Linked DNA regions of Homo sapiens: region 2 is linked to region 1. Evidence: fine-mapped expression QTL. A gene starts in region 1. The other region holds a variant in brackets. All regions are shown on one strand. Distances are between the middles of the regions.

Region 1 (2,919 bases):
AAGCTTTGCTGATCATCCATTTATATTTTCATAGGAAATAAAATATTCCCAGACTCCCACTCTGCAGTGTTGCTTAGGGGTAAAATCAGGGTATGGATGTTTATTAATGACAAACCACCTCAGAGCTCAAGCTCAGAGGAAAGAAGGGAAAATGAGAAAAATAAGTAAAAGTGAAGACTGATGGAGGGAGGAAGGTAGGAATAAAAAGGGGATAGAAAGACACAGAAAGAGAAAAAGAGAGAAGCAGAGACAGAGTGAGAGCAGCGAGTGAGACAGGCAGTGTGTACACATGTGTGAGTGACAATGTGGAACAGAGAAGGAGAGTATGCCTTTTAAAAACAGTGAGAGACAATCTGAATGTGGAAGTGGTTCTTACAGCATGGAAGTGCCAGTGCATGTGAGGATGTGAGAGTATGTGAGTTAGTATGTTTATGGAAATAAGATTTATGAGGGTGAGTAAATGGTACTGGAGGGGAACAGTGACCATGCCTGTGTGTGCCACAGGGGTGGGAAACGGTATGGGGAGAGGGATGAGAAATGGGAGTCAAAAGAGGGAAGACAGGGCACAGGATAGGGACATTAAGGAGGAATAAAAAAAATAGACAAAAAGAAAAAAGGGTAAAAGAGAGGAGGAAAGGGGATTAAATGTGAGGAACAGAAATTAGAGTCGTGGAGATAAAAATGAGAAAATATGAGAAGAAATTTTAAAAAGGAGGGAAAAAACAGAAAATAGAAAAGGTATGAAAAGAGATATTGGAGGGAAAAAGAGTTACAAGGAGGTGGGGAAAATGGTATAAGAGAATGAGGAAGGAGAAAAGAAAGAAAACAGAAAGCGGTAAAAGGAAAGAAAGATAAAGAGCAAGAAATCGAGCCTAAGTGTCCAAGTGAGAGGGAAAATAAATGGGAGCAGAGAACAGCAGTTTGAAAGAGTCGCTTATGCTGGAGTAAAATAGAAACAAACCTGATAAACTTGTCAGACTCTCCAGGAGTACCCCATGACAGTAAAACAGAGACCTTGTGCATTGAGTTTCAAAGTGGCACCTGCCCCTCCTTCTAAACCTGACAGTTCACTCATCCCCAGGCTACTTGGCGTTCCGGCAAAGTGCTTTAGCATCACGAGTCCAGCTTGCTACCTGCCCCAGCATAAACGGGCCGGGGCTCCGGGAAGAATCTGCACCTGGAATTCTTGGGATGTGGTCTTTCCATGATGAGCACCACCAGCATTATTGCTTGTGTTATAAAGAAGGCAAAGAGGGTTCAAAGAGAGACAGAAAGATAGACCGAAACAAGTACGAAAAGCACGCCGTTCTTCCTACCTAAGCACCGCCGTGTCCCCTTTTCTGACCATCATGTTGTCCACGGCCGCCCAGGGGAAGTCCACACTCTGTCCAGCCGGGAGGCAGGAGGGTAGCAGGCAGCACAGGCTGAGGAGCACCGCCGCCAGCCACTGGTTCGAGCAACAAGCACCCTGCACCAACAGCATCATGTCCATCCCTGCTAGGGCTGCTCACTCTCCAGCAGCTTTCAGCTCGCACTCCCCCACCCCCTGGTGCTGGCGAGTCTTCCCGGGAACCAGGCGGCGCGCCACAGGATTTTTTTTTTTTTTTTTTTTTTTTTTTTTTTTTGGTGGGTGGGTGGGTTTCTTTTCTTTCTTTCTTCCCCCCACCCCAGTTGTTGGGTGTTGTTTCTCTCTTTTTGTTTTTCGGTGTTTTTGCCTCCCCTCCTCCTCTTCGCTTTCCCTCCCTCCCTCCCCTCCCTCCCCCTGGCACCACACTACACCTCCTCTCGGTTGCTTTTGGCCGCGTCCGGAGTGTGTCTAATTCTCGGGCGGCTCGCACACCATCTAGCGAGGAGGCGAGCGCGCCGGCGAGTGAGGGAGGAGGCGCGGCGGCGGGGGAGGAGGCAGGGCGAGCGGCGGCGGCGGCGGCTGCAATCCCAGCAGCAGCAGCAGCAACAGCAACAGCAGCAGCAGAAGCAGCGCGGAGCGCTGCGCCGGCCGCCGGCTCCCGGGCTCGCGCGCGTTGCCAAGCGGCCGTTTCCTTAGCAACCCCGCCAGGGGACTGGGGATGGAGAAGGGAGGGGGATTAAAAAAATAATAAAAAAAGAAAGAAAAAAGATAGCAAGAAAAAAAAAAGAAAAGCAAGACAACGAAAAAAAAAATAGGAGGAACTGTATCACAATTATGCAAACTAAGGGGGAAAGAGAGGCACCTTAGAATGAAGGCTCTCCTTACTGTCGTAAGCGCTAGAGGGATTCTTTGCTAGAAAAGTCTCCGTGTCAGGGCTGGGGTGAAGAGAGCTGAGGGGCGCTTTGCCTTCCCTCACCGGTGCGTTTTACCTCTCGAGGCACCGTAAGTTTGAAGTCCTCCAAGTTGTGGTCGGCGCCATCATGACGCCGGCGACTGTGAGTTGTTTTTTTGTTTATTTTCTTCTAATCTTGCCTGGGTGGCTACGCTGCAGTTAGCGAGCAGCCAACTAGTTCTCTCTGCGTTTTCTCGGGAATAGGTAGGGACGGTGGCGGGGCGCTGCTTTTTTGCGGGGACACGAGGAGGTGCAAGGCCTTGCGGCAGAGCAGCTTGCGTGTTTGTGGCGGTCGGCCCGTATGGATTGCAGGACGCCCCTCTTTTATCTGTGGGTGTTGACACTAAGTTGTGTGTGTGAGTAGGGGATTGTTTATGGTCAACATGGAGTGTGTGTGTGATAGAGAGCGTGTCGTGCGCGCGGGGGCCTGTGCACGCGCGGCACGCAGGCGCGCTGGGAGGGACGGGGCGGGTCATGCTGGGATGTAGAGTCGGGAAAAGACTGCAATCAAGTGTTTTAATTGTGTAGAGCCCAGGCGGTCCAGTTATGTAAGAGGCAGTTTAACCCATTTGAGCCTATCAGGCCGAATAATCGGCGCATCCGAGTCAAGGCAGGGCAG
Region 2 (2,919 bases), 65 kb after region 1:
AGTTGGCTAGTTGCAGAAAAGAAAATCAGAGTTTCAAAGCTTTAAGGGGATTCAATGTGCCACTGATGACTTGTAGATGGAGGGGTACATATGAAAAGGGCTTCAGAGTGGCCTCCAGGAGTTAGGAGCAACCACCAGTCAACAGCCAGCCAGAAACAGAGGTCTTGGTCATCTAAGCACAAGAAATTGTATTCTGCCAACAAGAAGATTTAGCTGACCATGAGAATGATTTTTTTCCTAGAGCTTCCAGATGAGGACTCAGTCATCAGACACCCAGATTATAGCCCTGTGGTACCCTAGTTAAAGAACTAAGCTATTCCATGTCAGAGTTTTGACCAACAGTACTATAGGCTAATAAATAGGTGTGACTGTAGGCTGTTAAGTTTGTGTCCATTTGCTATGAAGCAATAGAAAACAGGCAGCATGCTCTGTTTTTTCTACTCTTGCATCACCTTGGTCTTTCTGTTCTCCTCCATTCATTAATAAATTGCTTCTGGTTCCTCTAGGTACTAGGCTGTGGGTAGGGGAAGGTAGGAAGGTTGAGAAGAAAGTTGGGGTGTTTTTAAAATGACTTAAGTTCAGCTGTCTTCCGAGTTCATGGGAAAATAAGCCATTCTTTTTCTGCCAAACGGTGGTATTAAGGCTTGCAGGATGAAATATTTTGCTTCTGACTTCTCCAGCTGAGAAGCAGGCATAATTTTCTGTGATTATTAATATTGCAAACTCTAGAAAATGCAAGCTAGCCTTCCCAGAAATTTTCTCACTGTTCTACACTCCAATTGCCCTAAGGGAAATAGAGGGTGAAGACTGTCTTTCCTTCTCAGAGGCACTCCCAATTTCTATGCGTGATTCTCTTGGGTCACCCTCATGTCACCAGGGAATGAAATATTCCCCATCTTACTCCATGCAGAAAGGAGGAGAAAAGCCAGGACATGTTCTGTATTCCTATGTATTCCCATTAACCACTAGCTTTCTCTTACATATGTTCATTAGGGGATGAACAAGAATATTGGAAAGATTGGTAAAATCTTGTAGGGACATTTCTAGATGATTTCTATGATTGTTTGGGATATTTGCAATCTGTCCTTAGTTTTGATTCCTCTGTGAATTGAGGTAAAATTCCCATTTAAAATCCTGTTGCAAATTCTACTTTGCGAAAGTAAAAACCACCACCCTGTGCTCTATGAAAGTTCCTTTCTTGCCTACTGATAATAGTTTGGTTCTCTCGAGTTAAAATATAGCTTTATTTTCAGATATTTAAAATATCTGCTTTTTATTTTCTAAAAATCACTCTAACTACTTGGTGGAGAGTAGA[C/A]TGCAGGAGGATGAAATTGGACCCTGCAATACAGATACACTTGAGGTAATCTAGACCTTCCATTAAATGGGTGATCCATGGAATGGCAGGATCAATGTCATCTGGAAGCCTGTAAGAAAAGATGAGTCTCTGGTCTTTCTTCAGACCTACTAAAGTAGAATGTACACTTTAACAAGATCCCCAGGTAATTTGTATGCTTACTAGAAATTGTGAAGGACTTCTCTAGGTGAGATTTGATGCTTGCTTATCTAGGGTGATGTGTGTGGAAATGGGGATAAGGGAATGGATACAAGATATATTTTTGAGATACAAATGACAGAATTTTAGGATGACTTGATGTCAGAAATAAGGAAAAGGAAGAAATCCAGCATGATAAGTTAGGTTTCTAGCTTGAGTAACATAGTGGTGGTTTATGAAGTTTGGGAGAGGAATATGCTTGATACAAAAAAAAAAAAAAAGCAACAAAGGTTCCAATTTGACCACATAATTATCAGGAGAATATATATATATATATATATATATATATATATACACACACATCTATATATCTACATCTCTCTCTCTCTCTCTCTCTCTCTCTGTGTGTGTGTGTGTGTGTGTGTGTGTGTGTGTGTGTGTGTATGTGTATATATATATATATATATATGTTTTTTGAGATGGAGTTTTGCTTTTGTTGCCCAAGCTGGAGTGCAGTGGCGCGATCTTGGCTCACTGCAACTTTTGACTCCCTGATTCAAGCGATTCTCCTGCCTCAGCCTCCTGAGTAGCTAGGATTACAGACGCGTGCCACCACATCCAGCTAATTTTTGTATTTTTTAAGTAGAGACAGTGTTTCACCATGTTCGCCAGGGTGGTCTTGATCTCCTGACCTCGTGATCTGCCCGCCTTGACCTCCCAAAATGCTGGGATTACAGGCATGAGCCACCACGCCCAGCCGAGAATATTTTAATAGTTATAATCCAGAGTCGTGCTTGCCTCTTATTCCTATTGTCCCTTTTCTGTTTCTACTCCATTCTAACTCCTTAGTTGAAAAACTATAATCAGTCTAGTCAGTAGCAATCTAGAGTAGATAATTTCTGTGGTTTTAAAAGGACAGAAATTACAAGGGCCCTTTCCCTGAAAATGTCTGCTTCTTTTATTTTCTTCTTATTGCCAATTCTATCCTGATAGTCAAAATTTAGTTAATATTAAATCTTTCTTCAATTGATTTTTCTACCTATTGTGAAATACAATTATCACCAAAATATGATAAAACTGTTTCAGATCCTCAATTAAGTATTAGAATTTTAAAAGAAAAATAACCAATAGCTTATTCAGAAAAAGAAAAGAAAAACAAAAAAATGCAAAAAAACCTCTTCTGTGTCTAACAATATTTTGCACAGCTTTCAAAATCAATGGTGATAATACAAAATCAGGCGTATTTTTGAAAGGGTTAGTAGGTAATTTGTGAATACCCATTGGTGGATGTGAGTAATCATCTTTTATTGGAATATATTAGACTGTACATCTTTTTAATTGCTATGTGTTTTCTGGCTTCCTGGTCAACAAAGAAGAGACACTAATCTAACATCTAAAGAACACAATACTTCATCATTGCCAGGGCA

Evidence for each region. PIP is the estimated chance that this variant, and not a neighbour inherited with it, causes the effect.
Region 2: its variant is fine-mapped to the expression of NEGR1 in blood mononuclear cells (TOPMed, PIP above 0.99).

Annotation. Positions count from the first base shown.
Region 1 is chr1:72,281,003-72,283,921 of GRCh38, forward strand. It overlaps NEGR1 (neuronal growth regulator 1), which reads right to left and starts at 1,537. Exons shown (of 7, transcript NM_173808.3): 1 at 1,317-1,537. The coding sequence starts at 1,492. It overlaps LOC105378797 (a long non-coding RNA gene), which reads left to right and starts at 1,932. Exons shown (of 6, transcript XR_947506.3): 1 at 1,932-2,403. RefSeq lists silencers at 1,724-1,783, 1,884-1,973.
Region 2 is chr1:72,346,220-72,349,138 of GRCh38, forward strand. All of the region lies in intron 1 of LOC105378797 (a long non-coding RNA gene), which reads left to right. Among named protein-coding and RNA genes, the nearest start is that of NEGR1, 65 kb to the left of the region's middle. The variant C/A (reference allele first, on the strand shown) is at 1,316.